2 linked regions of the Homo sapiens genome follow. The protein of the gene in region 1 purifies or fractionates together with the protein of each later gene. This does not show direct contact. Each region holds a gene or a part of one and is shown in the gene's direction. Other genes may lie near its edges.

Region 1 (7,028 bases):
CTGATTCATAAGATAAACCTCCACTAATTTAAAATATTGAAATCATACAAGTATGTTCACTAACCACAGTGGAATCAAAGTGGAAATCAGTTACACAAAGGTAATAGGAAAACGTCCAGTCCTTGGAAACTGAACAACAAATTTCTAAGTATCCATGGGTCAAACAGGAAATATCAAAACAAATTTGAAAAAACATATTGATCTAACTTGGCCAGGCACAGTGGCTCACGCCTGTGATCCCAGCACTTTGGGAGGCCGAGGTGGGTGGATCGCAAGGTCAGGAATTTGAGACCATCTTGGCTAACACGATGAAACCCCATCTCTACTAAAAATACAAAAAAGTAGCCGGGCGTGGTGGCGGGCGCCTGTGGTCCCAGCTACTCGGGAGGCTGAGGCAGGAGAATGGCATGAACCTGGGAGGCGGAGCTCGCAGTGAACTAACTAAAAATGAAAATACAACAATTAAAATTTGAGAAGACCAGCTAAAGGAATGCTGAGAGGAAACTTGTAACATGAAATGCATATGTTAGAAAAGAAGAACAGCCTCAAATCAGTTATCTATGCTTCTACCTTACAAATCTAGAAAAAGAATAGCAAAATAAACTCAAAGCAAGCAAAAGAAATTATAAGAGTAGAAATCAGTACAATTGAAAAGAGTAACAATAGTGAATATCAATGAAACAGAGCTGGTTCTCTGAAAAAAATCAATAAAATTGAAAGACTGACCAAAAAAAGAAGACAGAAATGACCATTGTCAGAAATGGTGTCAGAGACAAGGATATCACTGCAGACATCAAACGGATAATAAGAGAATACTATGAACAATTCCATATACATAAGTTTACAAGTTAGATGAGATGGGCCAGTTAGTTGAAAAATACAAATCATCACAACTCAGTCTGACATAGATAACGTGAATAGCCCTGTAGAAATTGCTGTGGTTTGGGTATATTGAAATTTTTTAATTTTTATTTTTATTTTTTATTTTATATATATATTTTTATTATCCTTTAAGTTCTAGGGTACATGTGCACAACGTGCAGGTTTGTTACATATGTATACATGTGCCATGTTGGTGTGCTGCATCCGTTAACTCGTCATTTACATAAGGTATTTCTCCTAATGCTATCCCTCGCCACTCCCCCCACCCCACAACAGGCCCCAGTGTGTGATGTTCCCCTTCCTGCGTCCAAGGGTTCTCATTGTTCAATTCCCACCTATGAGTAAGAACATGCGGTGTTTGGTTTTTTGTCCTTGCGATAGTTTGCTGAGAATGATGGTTTCCAGCCTCATCCATGTCCCTAGAAAGGACATGAACTCATCATTTTTATGGCTGCATAGTATTCCATGGTGTATATGTGCCACATTTTCTTAATGCAGTCTATCATTGTTGGACATTTGGGTTGGTTCAGTATATTGAAATTTGATCCTCAATGTGGCAGTGTTGGGAGGTGTAGCCTAGTGGGAAGTGTTTGTGTTATGGGGGCAGATCCCTCATGAATGTCTTGCTGCTGTTCTCACAGTAGTAAGTTCTTGCTCTCTTGAGGCTAGATTAGTTCTTGAAGGAATTGATTATTTCCCGAATGAGTGGGTTGTTATAAAGCCAGGACACCCCTCAGGTTTTCCCCTCTTTGCACCTGTCTGCTTCCCCTTTGATTTTCTCCACCATGTTATGCAGCACAAAAGCCCTCACCAGAAGCCAAGGCTATGCCCACAAACTTTTCAGCCTATAGAACCATAAGCTAGTCTCAGGTATTTTTCTATAGCAACACAAAATGGACTAAGACAGAACTGTTCAGTGAATTAAAGTTGTAATTATGAAATTCCCAAAAAAGAAATATCCAGGCTCAGATGCTCTTATTGAAGAAGTCTACCAAACTTTTTAAGGAAGAATTAAAACTAATTCTACATAATCTCTTCCAGAAAATAGAAGAGGAAGAGACATTTTCCAGTTAATGTTAAGAAATGTTTTACCTTGCTTATATCAAAACCAAAGACATTACAGAAAAAAAAAAAAAAAAAAACTACAGACCAGTATACTTTGTGGGATAAACCCAAATGTCCTTAACAAAATATCAGAATTTTGCAGTATATAAAAAGAATTATATACCCCAAACAATAGAAGTTTATTTCAAGGTAGCAAAGTCAATTCACTATTTGAAGATCAATAAGTGTAATCCACCACATTAATTAAAGAAAAAAAATCCCACGATTATATTAATCAGTGGAATAAAAGCATTTGATACATTTCACCACCCATTCATGATAAAAACTGTCAGAAAAATAGCAATAGAAGGGACCTGCCTCAACTTGATAAAGAGCAACTACAGAACTCCTGTAAGCTAACATTAAATGGTGAAAGACTGAATGCTTTTCCCCTATGATCAAGAATAAAGCAAGAATATCTCTTTACCACTCATATTCAACAAAGTGCAGGAAGTAGTAATCACTGCGTTAAAGAGAGAAAAAGGAAATAAAAGGCATACAGACTGGAAAAGAAGAGCTAAAACTGTTGTTATGTGCAAATGACATGATTATCTATGTAGAAATCCAAGGAATCTACAGAAAAAACTGTGACTACAAAGCAAATCCCGTAAGATTGCAGGACACAATATAAATCTACAAAAAATTAATTGCATTTCTATTTACTAGCAATGAATATTTAGACACTAAAATTAATAATACATTAGCATTTACAATCATACATACAAAAAAATACTTAGGTGTAAGTTTAATAAAACTTTTATCACATTTATATACTGAAAGCTATACAATATTGATTAAAGAAATCAGAAAATAGCTAAATAAATGGACTGAAATATCATGTTCATGGATGGGAAGATTCAACATAGTAAAGATGTCAAGTCGGCTGGGCACGGTGACTCACACCTGTAATCCCAGCACTTTGGGAGGCCGAGGTGGGCAGATCACCTGAGATCGGGAGCTTTAGACCAGCCTGACCAACATGGAGAAACCCCATCTCTACTAAAAGTACAACATTAGCGAGGCGTGGTGGCGCATGCCTGTAATCCCAGCTACTCAGGAGGCTGAGGTAGGAGAATCACTTGAACCTGGGAGGTGGAGGTTGCAATGAGCCGAGATCGCGCCGTTGCGCTCCAGCCAGGACAACAAGAGCAAAACTCTGTCTTAAAAAAAAAAAAAAGTCAAGTCATCACAGATTGATATACAGATTTAACACAATTCCTGTCAAAATCCTAGCAGGATTTGTTTTGTAGATAGAAACAAGTTTTATTCTAAAATTCATATGAGGGGAAGAAAGAACCTGAATATTTAAAAACATTTATTTCTGTTAAAAGAATGTAGTTGGAGTAATCAGTGTTCCTGATTTCAGGATTTACTGTATAGATAAACAGTAAACAAAACTGCGTGGTAATGGCAGAGAGATACACACATAGATCAATAGAACGAGATAGGAAACCCAGAAATAGACTGATACCAATATAGCCAACTGTTTTTTGACAAAGATGCAAAAGCAGTTCGATGGAGGAAAGATAGCCTTTTCAACAGTTGGTTTTGAGGCAATTGGACACCCATAGGCCAAAAAATTAACCCTGACGAAAAGTATCATCCCTTATACACAAAATGAACTCGAAATAGATCATGAATGTAAATATAAAACATAACAATCAACAATAATGGGAGTCAATCTTTAGGATCTAGGGTGAGGCAATGATTTTTTAAGACTTAATCCCAAAAGCACAGTACATAAAAGGAAAAGTTGTTAAGTTGGACTTTAAGATTTTTTAAGCTTGCTCTGCCTTATTACGAGGATGAAAAGAAGCTCCAGGATGGAAAAAAAGATTTGCCAGGCACGTATTTGACAAAGGACAGGTATCTTGAATATATTAAATATAAAGAACTCCAAACACTCAAAAGTAAAATAACAGACAGTCCAATTAGAATGGGCAAAAAAATGAAGAGGCATTCCTTTGAAGATGATATACAGAGGGCAAATAAGCACAGTGAAAGATTTTCTCTGTCATTCATTAGTCATTAGAGAAATGCAAAGTAAAACCAAAATGGGATATCACTACACATTTATCAGAATGGCTAGAGTGAAAAATAATGACAATACCAAATGCTGGTATGGATGCAGGGAATGGATCACTCATACATTGTTAATGGGATATATAATGACACAGCTGTTCTGTACAACAGTTGGGCAGTTTCTCAAAAATCTGTGCAGCTACTATACAACCCAGCAATGCACTCCTGGGGATTTATTCCAGAGGAATGAAGATTTATGTTTACACCTAATCCTGTACATGAATATATATAGCAATTTTATTTGTAATAGCCAAAAACTAGAAAAAAACTAGATGTTATTCAGTGGTAAATGGTTAAACAGTGGTACATCCTTAACCATGGACTACTACTCACTAATAAAAAGAAATGAACTGTTGGCATATATGACAACCTGGATCTCCAGAGTATTATGATTTACAAAGCCAATCCCAAAAGGTTTCATTCCATTTATATATCATATAATATCCCATTTATATACTGTGTTATTTCATTAATATAATATTCTTGAAATGACAAAACTGTCAAAATGGAGAATAGATGAATGGTTGTCAGGGGTTGGGAAGGGAGGGAGGAGGAGTTGGATGTGGTTATGAAAGAGCAACATGAGAGTGGTGTTAGAAATGTTCTATATCCTGACTATATCAGTGTCAATATCCTGTTTGTGATATTGTAAGATAATTTTGCAAAATATTACTGTTGGGAAAAATTAGGGGAAAGGTACAGTGGATCTGTGTATTAAAAGTTTAAAGAAAAATAAATGAAGTGGAAGGTACCTTTTGGTGAAATAAGTGACAATGAGGTAGAAATGCGTTTTGTAAAACTTATGAATACCAAAATAAATTTAGGATATAATTATTTAGATAATAAGGAACTGCAAAAAAATCTTGATTATATGGGTATAGCACAAAGTAAATGAATAGAAATTTACTCTGGCCACAATATATAAATTGTCTTATGTGTACAATTATAGATTATGACAGTATTTCTCAAATACCATCTAAAATATCTTAATGTTTAGAAATTATTTTTTCTAAAAAAGGAAGCCTTAAAATAGAATTGGGTTGCCTATATATTAATAGTTTTAAAGTATTAAAACTATTAAAGTAGCATTATTGCATTACATGGGATAGCCCTTTTAGTTTATAGATGTTAAATCCTAAAATTGATATTGTTACTAAAAATACAATTTTAGCAGAGATTGATAGATATGCTTCTTTTTTTAGGTATGAGTTAATACCTTGATGTTGTTTGTAAGTACATTGTTTGGATCTTTGATTATACTTTCCCTTTGAAATAACTCATAAATGATGGCCACAGTTCTGAGTCACAGATTCTTTGAGAATCTGAAGAAAGTATCTCCTCAGATAGATGGATCATTCACCTAATTTTTCATTCAGCAGGGTATACTCACCATTTGAAAGCAATCTCTGAATCCCAGTTTTAAGAAGCTCGATTAGAAGAAAATATCCAGAGTATTGTATATAATTAATTTCAGTGTAATGTGTAATCATCCAAAAACAACTACCTAATGAGCATCTGTTTGCTTGTACAGTACCTATGGCAGCCACCACATGGGATCCAAAAACTATTTTTAAAATATTCTGTATTGCAAGAGGCTTACAATCTAGTTTAAGAAGCAAGATGTATTTATGAAGTGATTAACTATTAGAAGTGTCAGAGTACGAATAGGATAGTTCTTAGTTTTAGATTCAAAGCATTACAACTTGTAAATTGGTAAATTTGTAAATTTTAACAATTTTCTGGATTAGTTTCAGGTAGTCTTTTTTTTCAGCATGACATTAGTTTTTATGTGGGGCAGACTTTTATAATATAAAAACTTTGCTTACCTACTTTTACTCATTTCTTTTTCAGAGATTGGAAATGCTTATGCTGTTTTAAGTAAATTCTGGTAACCAGTGTAACATTACCTCTTTTGGATTTGGGACTGTGAGATGGGAAAGAGAATTCTTTTTTATAAATAAATGTTGTGAAGGTAGCAAAGTGAAATAGAAAAACTGAGGACTGTCTGTATTTATTTAAAAACTAATTCAGACTTTATGCTGGACCTTGGGGATATTGCCATGAAAACATAAACACAGTCCCTGTCTTTATGGAGTTTACTGTTTTAGGGGATAAATTGTTTGGGATAATAGAATGAAAAAATAGCTCATTCAGGCTCCAGGGTGCAAAAAAAGATTTTTGGTATGGGCTGCATAAAGAGAGTGTATTTATCGTGCTAAGAATAATTTGACTTTGCATGAGTTATTTAACCTTCTTGAATTTCAGGGCCCTCATTTGTAAAGTGAGGATAATAATGGACAATGTAATAAGGTATTGGGTGCAGAGCCTGGCAGTTCTTAGGTACTCAATAAATGATAGCTACTGCTATTGTTATTGGTTTAAACCACTTGAAGAATGGCTTAAGAGGCAGGATTTTAGGAGATGGAGCACAATATTAAAAAAGGAAGATGGATATTCCTTTGTTTTCAAGGCAGTAGAGAGACTTGTCTGGTATAAAAAGTTGTGTTGAGAGATAATATATGTAATTGCAAACAATGTATATCTTTAAAAGAACTTATTTTTAACAATTTTCTGGATAGTTTTAGGTAGTCTTTTTTTCAGCATGATGTTAGTTTTTATGTGGGGCAGCCTTTTATAATATAAAAACTTTGCTTACCAACTTTTACTCATTACTTTTTCAGAGATTGGAAATGCTTATGCTGTTTTAAGTAATCCAGAAAAGCGAAAACAGTATGACCTCACGGGCAATGAAGAACAAGCATGTAACCACCAAAACAATGGCAGATTTAATTTCCATAGAGGTTGTGAAGCTGATATAACTCCAGAAGACTTGTTTAATATATTTTTTGGGGGTGGATTTCCTTCAGGTATTTTAATGTAATTATAGATATTATATTTTATGAAGCTACATAGTCTTACCTCCAGTTAACGTTATTTAGAGATGTATCTACCTTTTCCCC
Region 2 (7,028 bases), on another chromosome or scaffold:
CCTTCCTGGGTGTCTCAGCCCCACCTGTCCTAGGGTCTCTGTGCTTGACAGGCAGTTGGGGACTCTTGGGAGCCGCCACCTGGAGCTCAGCCAGACCCCTGGGACGTGTCCTTTTTTTTATTTTTTGAGTTGGAGTTTTGCTCTTGTTGCCCAGGCTGGAGTGCAATGGTGCGATCTTGGCTCACTGCAACCTCCGCCTCCAGAGTTCAAGCAATTCTCCTGCCTCAGCATCCCGAGTAGCTGGGATTACAGGCATGTGCCACCACACCCAACTAATTTTGTACTTTCAGTAGAGATGGGGTTTCTCCATGTTGGTCAGGATGGTCTCGAACTCCCGACGTCAGGCGATCCGCCTGCCTCAGCCTCCCAAAGTGCTGGGATTACAGGCGTGAGCCACCGCGCCCAGCCTTTAGCTGAGCATTTCTGCACAGGAAATATCAGTGTGACTTTGAAGGGTTTCCCCAGAGTAAAATTCTATATCCTTTCTTAGAAACCTCAATGCTTGGGCCTAACAACTTTTAGTTTTAAAATACGGAGTAATTAGCAATGGCTTTGGGGTCAGGAAATTGGGTTCCCACATCAGCTTTGTCCTTAACTATTGATCAAGTCAGATCCCTCGAGATTCCTCCTTTTTTTTCATATCTTTTCGTAAAAATTTCTGTAAAGCTGTAAAGCTCAGCTTGAAAATCTTTTTTTTCTTTTTTCTTTCTTTTTTTTTTTTTTTTTTTGGAGACAAAGTCTTACTCTGTCACCCAGGCTGGAGTGCAGTGGCATGATCTTGGCTCACTGCAACCTCTGCCTCCCGGGTTCAAAAGATTCTCCTGCCTCAGCCTCCCGAGTAGCAGGGATTACAGGCACCTGCCACCACACCCGGCTCATTTTTGTATTTTTAGTAGAGACAGGGTTTCAACATCTTGGCCAGGCTGGTCTTGAACTCCTGACCTCGTGATCCACCCGCCTCAGCCTCCCAAAGTGCTGAGATTATGGGCGTGAGCCACTGCGCCCGGCCAGCTTGAAAATCTTTGACCAGCTGGGTGCAGTGGCTCATACCTATAATCCCAGCACTTTGGGAGGCCAAGGCAGGAGGATCGCTTGAGCCGAGGAGTTCGGGACCAGCCTGGGCAACATAAGAAGATGCCATCTCTACGAAAAAATTTTTTAAATTAGCGGGGCATGGTGATGCACACCTATAATCCCAGCTACTTGGGAGACTAAGGTGGGAGGATCAGTTGAGCTGGGGAAGTTGAGGCTGCAGTGAACCATGATCATGCCATTGCACTCCAGCCTGGGTGACAGAGTGACTCTGTCTCAAAAAAACAAAAAAATTACTATCCTTTGTCATTGTTGTTATTGTTGTTTTTGAGACAGGATCTCACTCTGCCACCCAGGCTGGAGTGCAGTATCATGGCTCACCCCAGCCTAAACCTCCCGGGCTCATACGCTCCCCCAACTTCAGCCTCCTGAGTAGCTGGGACCACGGGTATGCACCACCATACCCAGCTAATTTTTAATTTTTTTTTTTTTTTTAGAGACAAGAGCTCCCTTTGGTTGCCCAGGCTGGTCTCGAACTTCTGGGCTCAAGTGATCCTCCTGCTTTGGCCTCCCAAAGTGCTGGGATTATAGGCATAAGCCACTGTGCCTGTCCTACTATCATTTTTTTTCTAATGACATCGTGCTCCCCTTTTCCCAAAACTGAAGTTTCGCGTACAAATATGCTTTGGCCTAAAAATTCTGGTTCGGTTTTTTCTCTTAATTCGTGGTTCTTTGGTACTGTTCCTTTTATTGTAAACTGCCACAATTATTATTATTATTGGAACTGGCACAATAGAAATAACACCACCATTCTTACCTCAAAGGTAATAACATTCATTAATGATTTCTCATTTGGGCTCCAGTAACACTGTGAGGGGATCAGTGCGTTGACCCTCTATGTGGAAGTTATCATTTTTGCTGCTGATGACAATGAAGCCCTTCACGTGTGTCTTGTTAGTTTCCTTTTGGTTGGTTTTTAGTAAAGATGGAGAAGTGCTCCCTGCTGCCACTTCTTAAACGACCAACGTCCAGGTTTGCTGTCCTGTCTTACTCGTTTGATTTTATAGCTCTGCAGTTTCTATTGAAGTAGACACTCCTAACACAGGGGTAGGTGTAAATGTGATACCTTTGGGAAGAGGCACTTAGTCCCCGAGGTCCTTGGAGTTGCTCCAGCTCTCAAGGAGGAGGCCAAAGGTGCAGCGTCTGGAGCAGCTCTGACTGGGGTGAAAGGTGAGGAGGAGATGACCTGGAGTTAGTGGGTCTCTCGAATAGTGATGGACCCAAGTGAGTGGTTTCCTGTTGCCCTAGGAACAGATGGAAATATTGAAAGGAACTGCTGTCAGCTTGAATTTAGCCTGGGCTGGGGAGGTAGACACCGCTCTCAGCCAAGCTCCTTCCCTTGGCCGGCCTCGGCTGCCCCGGGTACAAAGTGAGACGTCGGCCTAGATGCTTTCTGAGAGGAGTCCCCAGCTGTTACATTCTGTAGGCCCCTATACAGGAGACTGTGCTTGGGATCAGCCTGCTGGGGCTGCAGGGACCCTCCCTGTGCTTTGCAGGTGTTTGTCCCAGAGATGGCAGCGCGGAGGCAACGCGTCCAACTCCTGCACCGTTCTCTCCCTGCTCGGAGCCCCCTGTGCCTTCATGGGCTCAATGGCTCCTGGCCATGTTGCTGAGTAAGTCCAGGAGGGAGAGCCCACTGGGGAAGGCCTGCCTGCATCATTGTGGGAGAAGAAGGATGTATCCACCCTGGGTGGATGGGGGATTAGAAATGGGTTGTGTCCAGCAGAAACGCGGGGAGGGGGCATGGCGGAGCACCAGACGCCCAGCCCTGCCTTGGCGTGGCCTCTCTGCGGTTCGGGGGCTGATGCTGCCCCTGTGAAGCTTTCCTTGCCACAGCTTGTTTCCTGGACACTTCTGGAGCCTGCTTCAGCCTCTTCCTTTCTCCTTCCTTGCTTCCTGCAGACTCTGCGGTGGATGTGCCTTTGCCTTATCTTAAGTCCCTTATCCTGGCCATGCTTGAGGCAGAAGGCAGTTAGGGACACGTGGTACCCATCCTCCCCCAGGTCCAGGCCCACAGTTTCTGTCCCAGTTGAGAGGCAGGGCTGGTGCTCATGTCCCTGTTGTTCACTGAAGCAGTGAGAGTACCCTGTTCAAGGACACCCTGAAGCCACATGCTAAAGCTGGGCTCAGAACCCACACCTCCCAGTTCCCCGGCTGTCAGGGCTATAGCCCTAAATGGCTCATGCACGCCCTCCATGTTGGCTGCTGCAGGGACCTCAGAGCCCTTTGACCCCTGGCGCTGCCGACTCAGCAAGCACTTATCGGGAGGTGAGGCCCACACTTTGCACACTGTGGGCACGGGGGCAGGCTGCCAGGTTGCTGGCCTGTGAAGGGCAGCCCTTTGAACCCTGGTTTGAAGGGGGCTGCTGGCAGAGTCCAACCACCTGAGCTACAGCCAAACTCCCTGCCTTGATGAACTGGCAGGAAGAGAATAGAGGGAGAGAATCTGCCCTGTGAGATGGGACAGGACGGCTCAGAACCAAGGGCTGGTGACTCATTAAACCTCTTTAATAGCTCCTTTCCTCTGAGCTAGAGGCAGGACTGTGGCTCTGGCTTAGGATGGTCGACTCTCCTTTACATAGCAATCAGGCCAATGGGTGGTTTATTCAGAATTCTCCCCATGTGCTCGACAAACATTTAGAGAGCACCTACCATGTCCCAGGCACTGGGGTGCGAAAGTTATTTGGCAAACCAAACCATATTTCCAATGCTTTGGGAAAGTTACTATTTAAAGGAGTTGTAAGTCAAGGGATGATGCCCTGACTTGGTATCTTTATGCAAATCTGTATTATCCAGCTTTGGTGTTGCTGAAAGCGGGCTCTGGCCAGGTGAGAAAAGCCAGGATGGTGGCTGGACTGCTGGGCATAATTGCCAGTTCTTGAGCACAGAACAATGCCTGTCCATAGAGGGCTGGAAGGGCTGGGGCTGACCTCCTTGTCCTTGCCCCTGGGCTCACTCTGCATGGAGGGCATTCCAGGAGAGAGTTCTGGACCAGGCCCATACTGAGTGGCATCAGGCACGGGGAGCCAGCTGATTGCCCAGGAGGGTTCACCTGGCTGCAGGAGGACAAAGCAGTGAGCTGGCTCACCAAGGCAGCACCACTTCCAGGCTGGGCCTCCTGGAGGCAGGCAGAGAGTGAGAGGAATCACAGCATTAGGACTGGGAGGGACTGAGAGAGGACAGCACCCTGGATGAGCTTGTGGAGGACAGCTGGGGGCAAAGTATTGCCTTGGAGATTAATTATTAATCCTGTTTGGGCATTGCAGGAAACAAGCCACGGTGCCCCCACATGCTTGGTTCAAACAGTGTACAGGTTCTAGGGTCCTGTCTAGCTTTATGAACAGGAGCAAATCCTTTCCAGCATGAGTTGGACTGAAAAACAGAGTCAGGATCGGAGCATGCTTCAGCCAAGACCTAAAAGGATGGCCCTTAGTGTTTCTCTCTCTGAGCTCCAGGCTCTGCACTCCTGCATCTCCTGCCCTGTTGCACTGCCTGTGGCAAGACTGTGATTCCCAGTTCTCTCCCAGCCCCCTTTGCTTGCACCCCTGCCTTTCAGGGTCCCTAGTGGCCCTGCCAGCTACCCTCCAGTCCCCAAAACCCTTGTCGAACTGCACCCCCTTCGGGTTACTCCGCCCTAGCAGTTTTGTCCTGGATGACCTCCGCCGCTATTCTGTGGACCTACGCTACACAGTCTTTCAGACCACAGGCTCCGTCCCCATCGCCACGGTCATCATCAACGAGGCCAGTGGTAGCCGCACCATCCTATACTATGACAGGTTTGTACAACTGTCTGTGCCTTGCCAGCTGCTGCCGCCGCCACCAAAACTCCCAGAACAGGACTCTTCTTCTCTTAGAGGCTCGTGTGCTCCAGCACCCTCTCCCCACTCCTTTTGGAGGTCCAGACCACTTCCAGGCTCTAATCTGTGTCTCCTTGCCCTTTTCCTGGCCCGGCCTCCACCCTAAGCTTCCTGGTGGCCGACTTCAGGCGGCGGGGCGTGGACGTGTCTCAGGTGGCCTGGCAGAGCAAGGGGGACACCCCCAGCTCCTGCTGCATCATCAACAACTCCAATGGCAACCGTACCATTGTGCTCCATGACACGTAAGGCCCCCGGGCCTCGCCCTGCTACAACCCACCAATCAGTTGGCTCAATCAGTTCCCTCACTCGCCACCATGGGCATCCCAACTGCCCCCCTCTGTGGCTTCTGTGTACCAGAAGTTGCTCCCCTGCCAAAATGTCCAGTGATTTCCTAATTGCTTTCAATTAGGGGAAAAGTGAGGTGGGAAGGGATGGGCTTTGCTGTGCCTGGTGACTTGGCCTTGGTCAACACCAAAGAAGGGCAGGCAGGCCTATATAAACTGTAATTTATTAAGTGATTCCTCCATAATTATTAAATCGTTAATCAGCAGCTTGGCTGTGGGTGCGGGGAAACTGTTCTCAGGACAGAAGGGTGGGAGATGGGATTCAACCCTTCTTAAGAAGGGCTGTGGGGGGGTGCCCACTGGGATTTCCAAAGTCAGCCCCAGAGTTGCCAGCCTGCAGCATGGCACCAAGGAGCTGGGGTTTGGGTGTGTAAAAGAGATCAGCCCCCCAAAGTTTCCAGCATGATGAAGCCAGGCCACACACCATTCACAGCCATTGCTGAAGGAGGGGAAAGGAAACATGGGGTCAGCAGATCAGGGTCATCTAACATGGTGCTGACCTGGGGGAAGGGGCTATCCCTCCCTTCAGGGTCCCAGGCCACTCAAGAGAGGCCCCATGGGCCTAGACACTTCTTATCCCTTGCAGACTCCCTCCTGCAGGATTTTAGAGGTTTAGTGTACTAAGAACCTAGTACGTGCCAGGTACTGTTATGGCTGAGAGGGCCCAAGCCCAGCAGCCCTCAGGTTCAGGCTGTTCCTACGGCCCAGCCTGACTGCCGGACCTGGAGGAGGGGCAGCCATCCCTGGGCTTCATATGTGCAGTGAGTGTGAGTAGGCAGGCATATGTGCTACAGGTGACCTTCGCATTGGGCAATCCTAGTCAAATGCTTGTTAAGCAACAATCCGTAGTAACCCTGATCAAGGACACAACATAGCTATTTACAGGAGAGGAGCTCTGAGGAGAAATGTTTCTTGCCCACTGGCCTCAGTCCAGGCACATTCACACACATTACCTGCAACTGCAGCAGGCTGCAAGGGGGCTGGGGGTTTCAGCCCCATTTATCAATGTGGAAGTTGCCTCCCAAAGGCCCGGGCAGATCACACAGCTATAGTTAAGTGGAAGGACTCGGCTACAGAACGTGGAGCGGGGACTTTGGCTGAGTTGAGGTCTCTGGCTCAGGAGGGTCAAGGCAGACCTCTATCGGGAGTCCCCTTTCCTAAACCGGCCAAACACAAACTCTTCCTCAAGTGCTACCTTGACCTCAGGGTTGCAACGGGGAGCTATTAAACGCAGGACAGGGGTGCCATAGGTAAACCCCAACGCTGGGGCGCCAGAAGTGAGGGGGACCAGACAGCCCAGGCAGGGGGTCGCGGGCTTTATACTTTCCCAGGGCTCTGCCTGTGGGAGCCGTGTGCTGCTGCAAGGGATTCTGGGAAGTGTAGGCTTGGCGCTCTCAGTGCATTCTGGGAGATGCAGTCTCCAAGGCACACAGACCTTGCCAGTTGACATGTGTTGCAGTTCAGTTTACCGAGATAATTTAATCACAACCTCAAACTCAGGAAAGGGCACCCCAGCAGACTGTAACAGGGACAACCCTGGAGCTGAGCCTGAGAATCCTGTGCTGTGGATCCAGCTTCCTGTCATGCTGCCAGCAGTGCAGGCACAGGGTCCACAGCTGCCAGTTAGAGATCCTGGCTCTGCCTGACCCCATCATGCTCCTTCTTCTCTGTCTTTTCCATCCTGTGACCTAGGAGCCTGCCAGATGTGTCTGCTACAGACTTTGAGAAGGTTGAT

The links. Proteins that work in one complex are often made in the same cells at the same time.
Region 2: the proteins of DNAJB14 (region 1) and KHK purify together in Homo sapiens (affinity purification with mass spectrometry; 2 studies listed by BioGRID and IntAct, with this or other methods). This does not show direct contact.

The regions. Positions count from the first base shown.
Region 1 is NC_000004.12:99,908,618-99,915,645, reverse strand, and holds part of DNAJB14 (dnaJ homolog subfamily B member 14), read left to right. Parts: intron 1-6,749; coding exon 6,750-6,935; intron 6,936-7,028. UniProt on the Homo sapiens protein: Acts as a co-chaperone with HSPA8/Hsc70; required to promote protein folding and trafficking, prevent aggregation of client proteins, and promote unfolded proteins to endoplasmic reticulum-associated degradation (ERAD) pathway.
Region 2 is NC_000002.12:27,089,744-27,096,771, forward strand, and holds part of KHK (ketohexokinase), read left to right. Parts: intron 1-2,588; coding exon 2,589-2,705; intron 2,706-4,730; coding exon of another isoform or gene 4,731-4,868; intron 4,869-5,056; coding exon 5,057-5,191; intron 5,192-6,985; coding exon 6,986-7,028. UniProt on the Homo sapiens protein: Catalyzes the phosphorylation of the ketose sugar fructose to fructose-1-phosphate.